Homo sapiens: one gene and its partner. The protein of the gene in region 2 interacts with the protein of the main gene of each other region in a pairwise test. Each region holds a gene or a part of one and is shown on either strand. Other genes may lie near its edges.

Region 1 (3,808 bases), on a different chromosome or scaffold from region 2:
GCATCCTCCACTCGCAAGGCCTGAGACCTGCATCTGCCAGGCATTATGTGGGTCCTTTGCAGCCCTGGTGCTGTGCCCATTTTGCAGCTGCAGAATTCACAGTCTCACAGGGAACCAGACTCTCATGTGTGGTTAAAGCCCAGCGATTCTGACCCCAGCAACTGCCCACCCATTGCCACTCCCAGCTGGTAACAGGTTCTTCTGGGCTGGGCAGTACCCTGAATTTACAAGGCGCCTTCCTAGTTTCTCACCCTCAGCCCACGGCCCAGCCCCAGGTCTGCCTATTTGGCAGTCCGGGACATAGGCCCAAAAATGGCCAGAGACACAGTGAATCTCTGGCCTCAGGCAAGAGATCCATCTGAGAACGCGTCCCCAGCCTGCTCCAGACTCACGCCGAGAAGGTCCTCGTCCGGCGAGTGGGCAGTGGGCTTGGGACCACGTTGCCCCGCAGAGGGGATGGTGAGCGCTCACGGCTCCGAGGGGTGTCCAGCAGCCCGACTGAAGCTTGATGGGTGGGGGGCTGTGGTGGTGGGGGAGGCTCAGATGACATGGCTGACCTGGAAAGAGAAGAGGCTGTCAGGGGCTCGTGCCTTGCAAGGTAGGGACCCTGTGCTTACCCCCATGTCCACGTCTGACAGTCCAGTATCTGAGGCTCATTCCTCTCGGGCACCTCAGCACCATTGTCACCTTGTCTGGGAGCACGCCTGGCAGGGTCAGATGCCTACTCTGGGCTCCTGAAGCAACCGTGGGGCCCCCTCGATCATAGCTCTTCATGAAAATGCCACATCCTCCCCCATGACCAGGATGGCATCGGTCCCCTCTGTGTCCCCAGCACAAGGCATGGATCCCGGCACATTTGGGACACATAGTATTTGTGGGAGGGAAGGAGGAAGGTGAGCAGAAAACCCAAAGCCAGGGGCCGGGCGCAGTGGCTCACACCTGCAATCCCAGCACTCTGGGAGGCCGAGGCAGGCGGATCACTTAATGTCAGGAGTTCGAGACTAGCCTGGCCAACATGGGGAAACCCAGTCTCTAATACGAATACAAAAATTAGCTGGGCATGGTGGCAGGCACCTGTAATCCCATCTACTTGAAGGCTGAGGCATGAGAATTGCTTGAACCTGGGAGGCGGAGGTTCCAGTGAGCTGAGATCGCACCACTGCACTCCAGCCTGGGCTACAGAGCAAGACTCTGTCTCAAAAAAGAAAACCCAAAGCCAGGGAGATTTTAATGCCAACCACCTAGATCCAAACTCAGCCACTCCACGGACCCTCCCTGACGCTGCTGGGAGCCAGACACCACAGGGAAGCAGGGGCAAAAACTGACCCTCACGCAGTGTCCGCCTCCAGGGAACTGTGGAACACGTCGCAGAGAGCTCAAGCGCCACGTTTGGATCCCTGAGCAGCTGTCACAAGCCTGCACCCAGGACTGGGGGGCCTGCTGCGAGAGCCCAAAGGGAAAGGGAGAATTTCCAAGGCTGCATCCAGCTCCATCAGGCCCAGTGAATTTCCACACAGCCCGGGTCACCACGCTGTTATGAAATCAAATTCCTTCTGTGACCCCTAGTATGTACCGGTAAATCCAGCTGGAGGGCGGGAATTCCCTAGCTGCTGCTGTGCTTTTGACAATTTTTCAAGAGCAGGACACTCGCTGTACACAATAATCACTGAACATTGAATATGAAGGTGTCGGCTCTAACGTGGCCTCAGCTCGAGGTTCAGGGGAAAGAGAAACAGTCCAGCAGTCAGAGGCCCTTGGGTAAGTCCTTTCCCATCTCTGGGCTCAGTTTCCGAATCTGCAAAGTGGGGCAGCTGGGTGGGCATCACTTGGCACCTGCGCAGGGCTGGTGATGGGGGTACGAGATGAAGTAGGGAGAAGCCTAACTAACTCAGGACGCCACTCAACACCACACAGCCGGGAGGGACAGCAGCAGCCCTGGATCGGTTTGACTCAGGTCCCATGGGGTTTTCAAATTTAGATTTGAAGCATGGGCCAGGTGCGGTGGCTCACACCTGTAATCCCAGCACTTTGAGAGGCAGAGGCAGGTGGATCACCTGAGGTCAGGAGTTGGAGACCAGCCTGGCCAACATGGTGAAAACCAGTCTCTACTAAAAATACAAAATTAGCTGGGCGTGGTGGTGGGTGCCTGTAATCCCAGCTACTCGGGAGGCCAAAGCTGGAGAATTGCTTGAACCAGGGAGCTGTGGGTTGCAATGAGCCGAGATCACACCACAGCACTCCAGCCTGGGTGACAGAGTGAGACTCCGTCTCAAAAAAAAATAAATAACTTTTATTTTTTTGAGACAGTGTCTCACTGTCACCCAGGCTGGAGGGCAGTGGCATAATCACAGTTCACTGTAGCCTTGACCTCCATGCCTAATTTTTTTTTTTTTTTTTTTTTTTTTTTTTTTTTTTTTTTTTATAGAGACAGGGTATCACTATGTTGCCCAGGCTGATCTCAAACTCCTGGGCTCAACGGATTCTCCCACCTCTTCCTCTCAAAGTGCTAGGATTACAGGCATGAACCACCATGCCCGGCCTGAACTATCTTAAACATCCCAGGGGGTTTCCTCAAAATCCAGGTTTCCAGCTGCTCATGGAAAGAAATGAAGCTCTCACAACCTTCAACCTCAGTTTGCCCCCCCAGTCCCCTCATTTATAGGAGTCTTCAACCTACATCACCCAAAAATCCCACCGCACCCCCCGAACCGCCTTCAAGCATAGCCACCCAAGAACCAGGCCCGACTGCTCAGAGGAGAAGGGATGCCCCATCCCTGAAATGTCAGAACCCCTCCCCAGACATTGCTGCACTCTCCCGTTGGGCCTCAGTTCTGTCGGGCTGGGAAGCTGGTGGCTGGCTTGCCTTCTGGAGGAGGTGGCATCCTACCTCCTGTCCCTTCTCTCAGCTACAGCCGCGGCCAAGGAGGAACTCCTGAGTCCGGGGAGCCCCCACCTCAAAAAGGCCCCAGCTGCTGGCCTGGGGGCCAGGGCCCCCGCATGACCTACCAGCACAGGTCATAGAGTCCTAGAATGTTCAACGCCCAGAGTTCCAGGAAAGAGGCTGGCCCTGGGAGGGGAGGGCCCTGTCCAGGCCTCCCAGGACAGCAGATGGGAGCAGTGGCCTCGCAACTCCACAGTTAGAGACACTGCCCTGCCTTGTTCTATCCAAAGTCTCCCTCCCTCCTTTCTCCTGGAGTCAAGCATAGCTGACTTTTTTTTTTTTTTTTTTTTTTTTTTTTAATTTGAGATGGAGTCCTGCTGTCGCCCAGGCTGGAGTGCAATGGCACAATCTCGGCTCACTGCAACCTCCACCTTCTGGGTTCAAGTGATTCTCCTGCCTCAGCCTCCCAAGTAGCAGGGGTTACAGGTGCCCGCCATCACGCCCGGCTAATGAAGCATAGCTGACTTCTAATCCTACCCCTTGCCTGCTGTGTGGTCTTGTACAAGTTACTTAATCTCTCTGGGCCTCAGTTTCCACATCTGGAAAATGGGAATTATAATAGTCCCGATTTCACACCATCAGGCTGAACTGAAAACAAAATAATACACACTAAGCACTGGGCACACTGTCCGCCCAGGTCCAGTGAGCAGTAATTGTCAGCTACGACTGTTGTTATAATTGTCATCATAAAGGCACTCAACAGACACGTGCCCAATACCGAGCCCTGTTCAAGGCCCCAGAGACAAAGGGCTGAACTTGAAGCCAGAGAATAAACAGTTAAATAAACATAAACCAGATCATTACAGATCCCAAAAGGGCTGTAAAGAAACAGACAGAAGGGGATAGGGGGAGAAGGGTGGGAATACA
Region 2 (4,500 bases):
TAAATGTAAGAGTATAATTATTCTTTCCCCAAGCCTCGTGTAAAATAGGCATAACACTGATTGGTTTAACTTAAAAATAAATTTAAAGTGGAGATTCTAGGCCTGAAGTAGGGGAAGGTGTGTGGGCTTAGGAGTCCTGATCTGAGTTTGAGTTCAGACCCCACCCCACTCACTAGCCACACAGTTTGGGACAAGTCTGTACCTCAGTTTCTTCACCTGTAGAATGAGGATAATACCTATTATTTGTGGGATGTAATGAGGATGAAATAATGCATGCAAAATGCCTACTGTGGTGCCTGGAACATAGTAGGTACACCAACAGTGGCACAGATCACGTAAACCAGGGGCTCCAGCTCTGTTCTGCTGTCGTGAGCAAGAGCTGGGGAGGAGGCAGTGGGCTTCCCTCTATATGCCAGGCCACTCAGCTGTTAAGCTGGTGGTGTCTGCTGCAGGCTCAGTCTGAGAGAAGGGGTGGCCAAGCCACAGGGGAGACTCACAGGGGAGACTCAAAGGTGAGACCAGAGTGAGCCTTAAGGACCTGCCTAATGGGGTGTGGGGGTGGCACTTCCAGGCCAACTGCATGAAATTTATTCTCCTCCTTGTCTGGGTGACTCAGGCAGGGGCTTGGACAGGGTCCCTCTGACGGAGAAGCCTAGGGTAGTCCTCTTCATCTAACTTCCTTCCCTGTAGGCTGAACATCCACAGAAGCATAGGATTCTCTTGACGTAAAAGCCCACTTGCTCACAGCTGTCCCCCTGTGCACCGGACATCAATGACCCTCTCAGACAATGACGCTACTCAAGTGGAAGCCATTTATTTAAAACTTTTATTAACGCTTGAAGAAAAATAATGCAATGTGACAATGTACAGGTCCTGTTGCCTAAATCCGTAGTAGAAACAGATATTATCACTTAGCAAGCTCACGTGGTGCCAATTCTGAGATCAGACGGGGTTGTTCCTCCTTAGGAAGTGGCCACTGGAAGCATTGTTTTTCCATGCTATTTCCGTGAAGCCTTTTGCTTGGTTCGAGTTTAAATTTCTCCCTTTGTGTGAGTATGACTATAGTTCTGGCCTGGTGTTTTCTATTTATTTAGTTTTAGATGTCAGCATTTTACTATACTTGGTCCTCTCACTTCAGAATAACAGGGCTATTTATTGATACAAAGGAGAGGTGTTCAGATCATCTTGTTAAGATGCAGAGCTCAAAATAAACACTAAATCTTTATTTGGAGATCCACATCCTTCCTCAAAGGAAGGCTCATGAGTAAATTTGTATGCAGTATAAAGCCCAAGTAGAGGGTGTATTTTTAATGACTACTTTGCTTACATTTTAGATTGTGCAAATGTCTCAATCAATGCTTGCAGGAATGTGGACCTTCCTCAGTTTTAAGCAGAAGACCCTGAGCAATAAATACTGTTGCATGCTTCCAATAACGTGAGGGATGGGATAGAAATGCTATCTACCCGACTTCTGAGGAGAAAACAAAGCAGTGGCATGAAAAATATACAACAGAGATCAGTAAATGGGTTCAAATGAACACAGTAAACCATTTTATGCCTTAGGGGGAAAACACAGAGATAATAAATACAAATGACAAATATTTACAATAGAAGCAACGAATGGGATCAGTAGGCGAACACATAAAACATTTACACGGAGGAAAATGGAAATGTGATGCCTTTCACACATCCAGTCCAGGAGCTGGCGGACAAATGAACAGCTGACTCAGCAACGCAGGAGAATGTTATTGCTTTAGCTTTTGAGTGATGTCAGTAAAACAGTCAACGTGCCTGCCGCGGTGGCTCACTGCAGGAGACAGCCACGGTTTACACTCGTTCCCATGGCAGAGCCTGACACACAGGTCCTCCTCCCCCCAAGGGCAGAGCTGGATTAAGTGCACCAGCTCTTCTGTTCTCTGCAGCCCCAGATCTTGCTGGGTGCCCAGGGAGCCCGGTGGCGGGGGCTGGAGGTGGGGTTTCCTCCCTTCCCCCAACCAATGATTCCCCTCCCCACCCAACCGCCGGCATGGATCATGAAAGACTGGGATTGGATTTGGGGCATAGAAATACTAGCTGTGTTTTGGTTGAAGGCATTCCCCAGGAACAAGTCATTTTAGAGCAGATACGCTTGGTTTCTTGGTGTCTGGCCTCAGGTTGCCTTGAGGAAGAGCTGATGAGTTGACGGATAAGGATGCATATGCTTTTTGACCCACTCACTAGAACAGAGATCAGTAAACTGTGTCCTGTGAGTGAAATTCAGCTGGGAGCCTGTTAAATAAATCTTCCTGGAAGGGAGCCAAGCCCTCTCGTTTGTGTGTTGTCTATGGCTGCTTTTGTGCTAGGACGGCAGAGTTGAGTAGTTTCGACAGAGACCTCACGGCTCGCCAAACTGAAAGTACTGGATTCAGTATCTGGCCCTTTGCAGACAATGTTTGCTGACCCCCTACTCCAGAAGAGCCCAGCCCAGAATACCCGGCCACTCCCTACAATACCAGCTCCTGCTTGAGAAAGGATAGGCTTTAATTTGATGGCCAATTAGGAAGAAAAGGCCTATTTAGGTGATGTTTTAAATAACCCAAGAAACCCACTGCTGAGACTTTTAATGAAAATCCTCACTCTCCTTTCCTCGTATTTTTAGTTCTGTCTCTTCTCTCTGCCTTTATTTGTCCCCTTGGACTCCTCTCCTTATTGCTAAATTTCCAATTAGGATCTGGAAAATCCTGTCCCTTAGAGATTTTCAGCAGTCTCCTTGATTTTATGTAAAAGGTCAGCATTTCCTGATGGGAATTACTAAGTAGTCTTCATTCTCTTCTTTCCTTTCCCATCCCCTCACATGGAGAAGCCAGGTTTCCAGCTGGGTCTCCTGGAATCGCCAGGACGCAGCTTTACCAATCTTGGCTGAGGGTCAAGGTGAGATAACGAAATCCTAAGGGAAATTTGTCAAATGTACTCCCCAGGTGTGTATTTTCCTCTGGGTATAAGGTTTCCCCCAAGTGGGCAGGAGTCCATGTCAGGCAGTCAGATGTATGGCTATGTCGCTGTTTGATAGCTTTTAAAATAGAACTTAAAAAAAAGAAAAATCAGCCTCAAAGGATGGGCTGGTTTTTTTTTTTTAAACCCCCTTTGAGCTGGTTTTAATGACCCAGTTGCTTTGTTTGAAAGCCATTTATTTAGATGACAGATATGTAGATATAACTGGATAAATAAAAAAAGTGAAATCGAGATTTGAAGCAGTGGTTAAAATATAAACTCATAGGGGCCACTCCCTTGGACAGTGTCCCCCCCAGCCCAGACAGTACAATGGCTCAGAAATTACACATAGAAATGACACTCCTCCCTCCACCCTCGCCAAGAGCTCTGAACCGCAAGGCCCCACACAAGAAACTGAATTTCAGTTTGGCACCAAGCACCCCCTCGGCCCCTGCCTCCTCTCCACCCTTCTCCTGCATTCTAAGCGATATTTATTTTTACATTCACTCCTGTCCTGGAATCCAGCCGCCCTGACTTCCGCGGAGACAGCACCAGAGGCTGCTGCACCAGAAGCTTCGGGGCGAGGCCCAGCACCCACTGTGTGGCCCAGCTCTGGGGGCCCTGCCTTGCCCTGCCCCTCCCTGGTTCACCTCCCCCACAACAGAGCGGCCGACACCCACTGACTCCACAGATGGAAAGAAGACAAAGGTACGAGGATAACGCGGGCGCGCTCCCTTGAGTACGTGTAAGTGCAGAATTCACCAGGCACCCCTGAGACCCCACGGCCCCAGGGGTCTCCATCTCACCTGTCCGTTCCGCGAACACACACCTCGATGAAGTCCACAGTCCCCACAGAATCCTGCGTGTGACATCCCCCCTCTCTAATGGTAAATGTTTTGGAATGTCCATAGATAAGAAAATGGACGGCGTGGAGGAAAGATTTCGTGGCCAGGCCTTTCATTTCACCTCCGGATATCAGAATACTCAGACTGTTCGTCTTCCCACTCGCTGCTTCCGGAAGGTCCCTGAGCCCCAAGGCCCCCGACTCTGCCTCGGGCATGGGCGTTTGGGTGGCTCTTGCTACCTCGCTCACCCTTGGCACCTCGGCCAGTCTCCCTACTGCTGGGCTCTGGGAGGTGATGTCCTGCTTCCCCGTGGTGGGCCCTGGAGAGCTTGGTTCTGTCCACCTGGGGCTGGCGCTCGGGGGGCGCCGTGGGAGGCTTCTGGATGGCCGAGGTGCAGAAGCTCAAGATGGAGCACAGGCTTCCCCAGTTCTGCTCACACTGAACCTGCACGCTGTGGGTGATGGCCTCCTTCACCTCCTCCCCACAGGTCAGCAGCAAGTTCACGAGGTCCACGTAGGGTCTAAAGATTGAAAGCAAAGAGAGAGAGAGAGAGAGAGAGAGAGAGAGAGAGGCTGGGAATGGAGCAAGTCCCGAATGGACCACAGAGGGCAGGGGCAATGCTGGGAAGGAGGCATGGCCAGTGCTTGTCTTGGGTTCGGTGGAAGATCTCTCTCAAATGACTTCA

The links.
Region 1: the proteins of STC2 (region 2) and CARHSP1 interact in a two-hybrid assay, tested with the Homo sapiens proteins (one large-scale study listed by BioGRID and IntAct).

The regions. Positions count from the first base shown.
Region 1 is NC_000016.10:8,858,779-8,862,586, forward strand, and holds part of CARHSP1 (calcium-regulated heat-stable protein 1), read right to left. Parts: intron 2,957-3,808; exon of another isoform or gene 2,864-2,956; intron 1,796-2,863; exon of another isoform or gene 1,327-1,795; intron 558-1,326; 5' UTR 551-557; coding exon 393-550; intron 1-392. UniProt on the Homo sapiens protein: Binds mRNA and regulates the stability of target mRNA. Binds single-stranded DNA (in vitro).
Region 2 is NC_000005.10:173,313,915-173,318,414, forward strand, and holds the end of STC2 (stanniocalcin-2 precursor), read right to left. Parts: intron 4,336-4,500; coding exon 3,933-4,335; 3' UTR 809-3,932; downstream 1-808. UniProt on the Homo sapiens protein: Has an anti-hypocalcemic action on calcium and phosphate homeostasis.